Linked DNA regions of Homo sapiens: region 2 is linked to region 1. Evidence: fine-mapped expression QTL. A gene starts in region 1. The other region holds a variant in brackets. All regions are shown on one strand. Distances are between the middles of the regions.

Region 1 (2,909 bases):
AAGGCAGACTACTGGGAAATGGGCTGTGTTGCACTTTTATCTCATGGTTTTTTTGGTGGGTGAGCTTAGAGCTAAGGTCTTTCCCTGGGAGTCCCTGAATTCACTTGCACTCCCCAGCCTGGTCCTGGCTTCCCCACGGGGGCTACAGTTCCCACTGCCAGTGACACAGCCCCCAGGCAGCATGCTGTAGCCCCCGCTGACAGAGCTGGGCCAGTAGCCGTAGGTGCCAGCATTGCTGAATCCAAAGCCAGCCCCTGTGCCTGCCATCCCGGCCATGGAGCTGTTGATGACCGCTGCAGAGGAGGGAGGGACGAGTGATCAGTGTATATCCCAGGACAGAGGTGGCCTTAAGTCCCCCTCCAACCTCCCAGCCCCACTAGCTTAAATACCTCCTTCTTAAGCAAACACTTCCCATCAACCATGAACTTGGGTTCATTTGAGCAACTCAAGCGCGGGAAGAATAGCCCCAGTCCTGCAAGACTCCCAAGTCAGTCACCTTGTCATTCTATGAACAAACAGGAGTAGCAAGGGCTTTCCCCAGGGGACAGATGATGCTTGAGCATCAGATAAGCCAGCAGGTTCTTGCATTTAGCTTTACAATACCTTCTGAGTATTTTTCAAAAGAATTTCCTGATTGTTAAAATTAGGGAGTTTCTGCTGGTCCCACTATAAGAAAGAGACTGCCAAACCCTGTGGGGCCAGCATTAAACTGGCTTGCACAGTGGTCCACACACCAGTCTCCACTCCCATTGAGGAGGCACCACTCTGTGCTCAGTTTCCTTCATGCAGGAGAGCCGGTGTGGGGGTGACAGAAGAGGGGAGGGGCTGAGAGTTTCACCACAGCAGGCAGGAGATTGCTATGAAAGAGGCTAGTGTGCAGTATCAGAATGTCCTGGGCACTAGCTCCACCTGGAAGAAGTAGCTCTGAATGGGGAGGCCGCAGGTCTCAGCAAGGAAGGTGAGTATGTGACCAAGTGGTCAACAGGCAGAGCCAAGCTCTTCCTCAGGGGGCTGGGCGGTGGACACCCACCCACTTTGTGTTTGTTGATGGACTAAAAGTATTCCCTCAGAGTCATGAAATACTCACAAATGCTCACGGAGTTGGTATATTCTCCGGACATCCTGCAAGAGAGAAAAGCACAGGAGAGTCTGAATCACGTGGACTCCCATAGTGGCCCTCACTGCCTAAACACAGGCTGGGGATCCCCAGCCAGACCAGCTCAGCCTTCACGCACCCCACACTTGCCAGATGGCACTGGCTGCCCTTGCATGTCTCTAAGCCCTCCCTCTCGCTCCTCAATCTACTCTTCCCACTGCAGAGATGTGGAACCTGCAACTTTGGAACCCCCAACAACATTACCACCCCCAAGGTCCCTCCTGCAGGGTTTCTCTTGAACCCATTTCTTTACTACTGTGAGCAGCTGTCTGAATAAATACATATGTGGAAAGATCAGGATCAGGAGTTGCTACTAATGAACGAACTGTATGATTTTGGGGCAAGTGACTTCTCTCCAGGTCTCAGTTATAAAATGGTGCTTGGTTAGAACAGGGTTTTTCAAATGTTCATGCTTCGTGTGCCACCCTTCTGACTGTTGCTAGGACCATGTTTGACTTGTACTGTTAGATATTTAGTATTTTTAATTGACTCTGCCTTTTACGACAAAAGTGCATTTCTTTTAAAAAGAAGTTTTTTATCACCAGGGTAAATAGAAACCAGTATTATTACCTAACCAAATAAGAAAAAAAGTAGCAGTAAAAATAAATATAATGAAAAGAAAACAATTTAAAACTTTTGGGCTAAATAATGCTATTATTTTCCCAGAGATGCTGCACCTGAGATCTACTGTCTCTTTATCAATAGGGGATATTTGTAAGTGTCTGAGAGGTGTTTTTGTGTTTTGTCTGTTTGTTTGTTTGTTTGTTTGTTTGTTTTTGAGATGGAGTCTCATTCTGTCACCCAAGCTGGAGGACAGTAGCAGGATCTCAGCTCACTGCAACCTCAGCCTCCTGGGTTCAAGCGATTCTCCTGACTCAGCCTCCCAAGTAGCTAAGATTACAGGCATGCACCACCACATCCAGCTAACTTTTGTATTTTTAGTAGAGACGAGGTTTCTCCAATGTTGGCCAGGCTGGTCTCAAACTCCTGACCTCAGGTGATCCACCCGCCTCAGCCTCCCAAAGTGCTGGGATTACAGGCACGAACCACTGCGCCTGGCCATCTGAGAGGTGTTAAAGACACAACAGCACCCAGCTAAGACTTTCTCCAAAGAGTCAAAAGAGAACTGTAAAGGAAATTGCTGTCACATTATCTGGCAGGATGCTGTTTGAAACTATGCTTGTGGGTGAAGTAAACACATCGCCAGCTCGCCGCCCCCTCCCCCCCGCCCCCAACCACACTCTGGGAAACTTTAAGGTGGAGACTTGCAGTTTCTTCCAGTCCCTCGGTCCCACCCACCTGCACTCCTCGCCCTCCAGCAGCTTGCGGTAGGTGGCGATCTCAATATCCAGGGACAGCTTCACGCTCAAAAGCTCTTGGTACTCGCGCAGCATCCGTGCCAGCTCCTCCTTGGCCTGCTGCAGGGCGCCCTCCAGCTCATCCAGCTTGGCCCTGGCATCCTTGAGGGCACAGTCCCCCCGCTGCTCGGCGTCAGCGATGGCCGTCTCCAGGTTGGCACACTGGGGTCAGGAGGTAGCATTTCTCCCTGAGTTCCTCCCTGGGCCTCGCTTCACCTCTCCCATGCTCTCAATGGTTGAGCCCTCCTCTGTCCTGCCCCATGTCCTGGAGCAGAGACCCAGCCACATCCAGGTGGAGTCCTGTCAACCTGAGACTGAGAGGCTTGCTACGCTGGGCCCCACAGCTTTATGAAAATAATCTGCAATTGTTCCAAACTTCAGATGGGAGCTAAGGG
Region 2 (2,909 bases), 66 kb before region 1:
CAATTTTTTCATCTGTATAATGGCCGTAACAACAGTCCTTCACTCCCAGAGCTGTTCTTAGGCAATGGGCATGAAAATGCTTTTTAAACTGTAAAGCAACAGGTAGGCACCCATCAGAAGAAAAATATGCACTATCACTTCCTCCACTGGTGACCGTGGCAGACATTACTAATCGATCAAACCATTCTTTCCATCTGTATCTGGATGCCACCATAGCATCCCCCAAATCACAGTTTAGGCTGATGGCTCCCGGTTCTGGCTGCTCATTAGAACTCCGTTGCTGACTTTTAAAATACACCAGTCAGTGCTTAGGCCCTACTTCTGGTAGCCTTACTTAATTGGTTTGGAGTAGAGACTTAGACAGCAATATTTTTCTAAGTTCCTGGGTTATTTTTCAGCCTGTTTAAAGAACTACTACTCTTGGCAGCCATAACCAAATTACCATGTAGATTCACATGGTGGACACCTTGCCTGCTAGTCATTGTCATTATTTCCTTTCCTCAGAGCCCTCACTTGCTCCCAAAATTGTCCATCAAGCCCTGCCTTCTCATGCTGGAACCTGTCAAGCTGATAGCTCAGGCCCCTGCCATGGGCCCCAGTGCTGGGTTTCTGAGTCTCCTGCAGGAGGCTCCAGTCTCCAGCACTTGGTTTTGTGGCTCTAGAAAACAGACTCAGAACCCAGGATAACCCTGCCCACTCAGGAGAACTCTGTGAGCCCTGGGGCATAAAGGGAGTTCTTCCCTCCCTCCTCAAATCTGTGAGATAAACCAGCATCATCTAGAGAAGCCTCCACCTTCACATTTGAGAATCTAGCCATTTCTTTTAGCCTCTCAACTGGAAAGTTCTTTCTGCTATCCAACCTCGGTCCCTACTGTTGCAAAGGCAGGAGGCTAGCAAAGGCAGCAGGTGTGCATGGTGCCTTCACTGAGGAAATGGCAATGTCTGTGCCCAGTACTGAACACACACACACACACACACACATGCATGCACACACACACATGCCTCATCTTATCAATCAAGGACGCAAACATGTTGTTGAGTCTTATTCCACTTACCCACCTGCTAGATGACGGTGCTGACAGGTTGATGACAGCCAGGAGTCTCCGGCTCTGACCATCTCCTGGGCAGGGGCTTTTGAGCCTTGCCCTAAGCCCCAGTCACTACTCTAAATGTCCTAGATGTCAACTCAGACCATCCGTCCCTTCCTCCGGACCCTCTGTCTTCCTCTTCCATTATACTTGGTCTTCTTGCCCCAAACCTTCATCCTCTGATCCCCCTCCAGCCCAGCCCCAATACCAGGCCTCCCTGCTCCTTTATGAAACTGAAACCCTCTTCCTTCCCCCAGATGA[C/T]GTCATTAGTGTGGCTACTGTGAGACTAGGTCGCTGCCCACTCACTGCAAAGACGTTGGCTTCCCACCCACCTGCAAATGCCCTGAGCCTCCTACACCTCCCCTCCCCACCCAAGACACAGAGCTGGCCTAGGGAATCTGTCTGTTCACTCTCCTTACACCCCTTACCAAGGCAGGACTGGCCATCACCATAGTGGTTCTGGAAGGTGGGATAGGAGTATGTCTGGGGCAGTGCCAACCCCCCAGTCACTGAAATTCATAGCCCACCCCCACCCCATGGTGGGACCCCAGCTCACTCCTCCCTACACCAGCCCCAACTTCCAAGACTTGTTACTTATCTTTCCATCTGAGAAGCCAAGAGTGTGGGACTCCCACCTGCTGACCCCCGCAGGAGGCCAGGCCTCTGAGCGGTGAGAAAAGGGCTGGACAAATGCAAATACCTGTGCACTAAGCCCACCTTCCAACGAGGAAAGGTGCAGTCTCAGAAAGAGGCAAGGTCAGGTCAGGAACACGACCATTTCTCTGTCACTGGACACAGTTTGTGCATGTCCATCTGCTGAAGCCTCCAGCCAGTACATGCACACGCTTTCTGGGCTTCTCCTTTCCTCCCTCCCTGCCCCTCCTCCCAGACCCTGCTCCACACCCCATTTGCCTCCTGAAAATTAACACAGACATATAGGCTGCATGGGCAATACACAGTGATGTACTTGTGTGTGTGTGTTTGTGCTTCATGCATTCATGAATGTACATGGTGCGCGCTCATGTGAGTGAATTGAGGTGCATGTGCATACTTTGAATACTCAGAGACCAAGCCATGAGATTGTGCTGTTTATTGAGGTTGCAACAGAGGAAGGCCATTAAGAATAAAGGAAAAGTGAACAGTGCCTGCTTTTCTCTGCTTCTGGGTGCAGGTGAGTGGAGAAAAAGGCCCTGAATTGCACTTGGTCCCACTCAGATTTGAGACTGAGCTAGATGTGGGGGTGGGGACTGGGCCACTCTTGGTTGTTTGTCCTTCAGTCCTCCTTTTCTTAAACACAGAGCCAGCTCCTGGCATAGGCAGGAACTATGCTAGGTCCCAGTGTGTGCGGGGCCTTGGGCAGAGACCCAGGGAGCCCAGCAGAGTAGTTAGCGACTGCGCTAGAGGCCGGGCAGAGGAGGAAAGCTGGCAGCCAGGACCTGGGCTGGTGGTGTAGCTGGGGGACCACAGCCAAGGAGTTAATAGGGTGTGTACAGGGAGGAATTTCACCAAGCTTGGTCATCCAGGCCTTCCCAGGATCAGGAAGACACAGGCTGGGAGAAGTGGGTGGCCAAGGCCAGTGCCAGGTGTATGGGAGCAGGACCAGCAGGGTGGAGATGGAGCTGAGAGTGGGCTGTGGGAAGTACAGTGTGGGATCCAGAGCCGGGTCATGGAATGAGGCGGGGCCCGGGGCAGTCTTCTCTACCGACTGGTTTTCTTGGAGGGTGCACTCAGGCTGGAACCCTTCCCTAGGGTGTCTTTGTAATCGTTGGCACTGCCCCGGCTCCTGCCCTCCCCGCCTCTCACGCTGCACACTCCAGAGAT

Evidence for each region. PIP is the estimated chance that this variant, and not a neighbour inherited with it, causes the effect.
Region 2: its variant is the best candidate, but not a certain one, in a credible set for the expression of KRT73-AS1 in whole blood (INTERVAL, PIP 0.86).

What each region holds. Positions count from the first base shown.
Region 1 is chr12:52,608,160-52,611,068 of GRCh38, forward strand. It overlaps KRT73-AS1 (KRT73 antisense RNA 1), which reads left to right and starts at 1,692. Exons shown (of 3, transcript NR_126005.1): 1 at 1,692-2,909. It overlaps KRT73 (keratin 73), which reads right to left. Exons shown (of 9, transcript NM_175068.3): 7 at 2,456-2,676; 8 at 1,088-1,122; 9 at 1-293. The coding sequence ends at 37.
Region 2 is chr12:52,541,746-52,544,654 of GRCh38, forward strand. KRT71 (keratin 71) reads right to left here. Exons shown (of 9, transcript NM_033448.3): 9 at 2,164-2,909. The coding sequence ends at 2,787. Among named protein-coding and RNA genes, the nearest start is that of KRT71, 9.9 kb to the right of the region's middle. The variant C/T (reference allele first, on the strand shown) is at 1,350.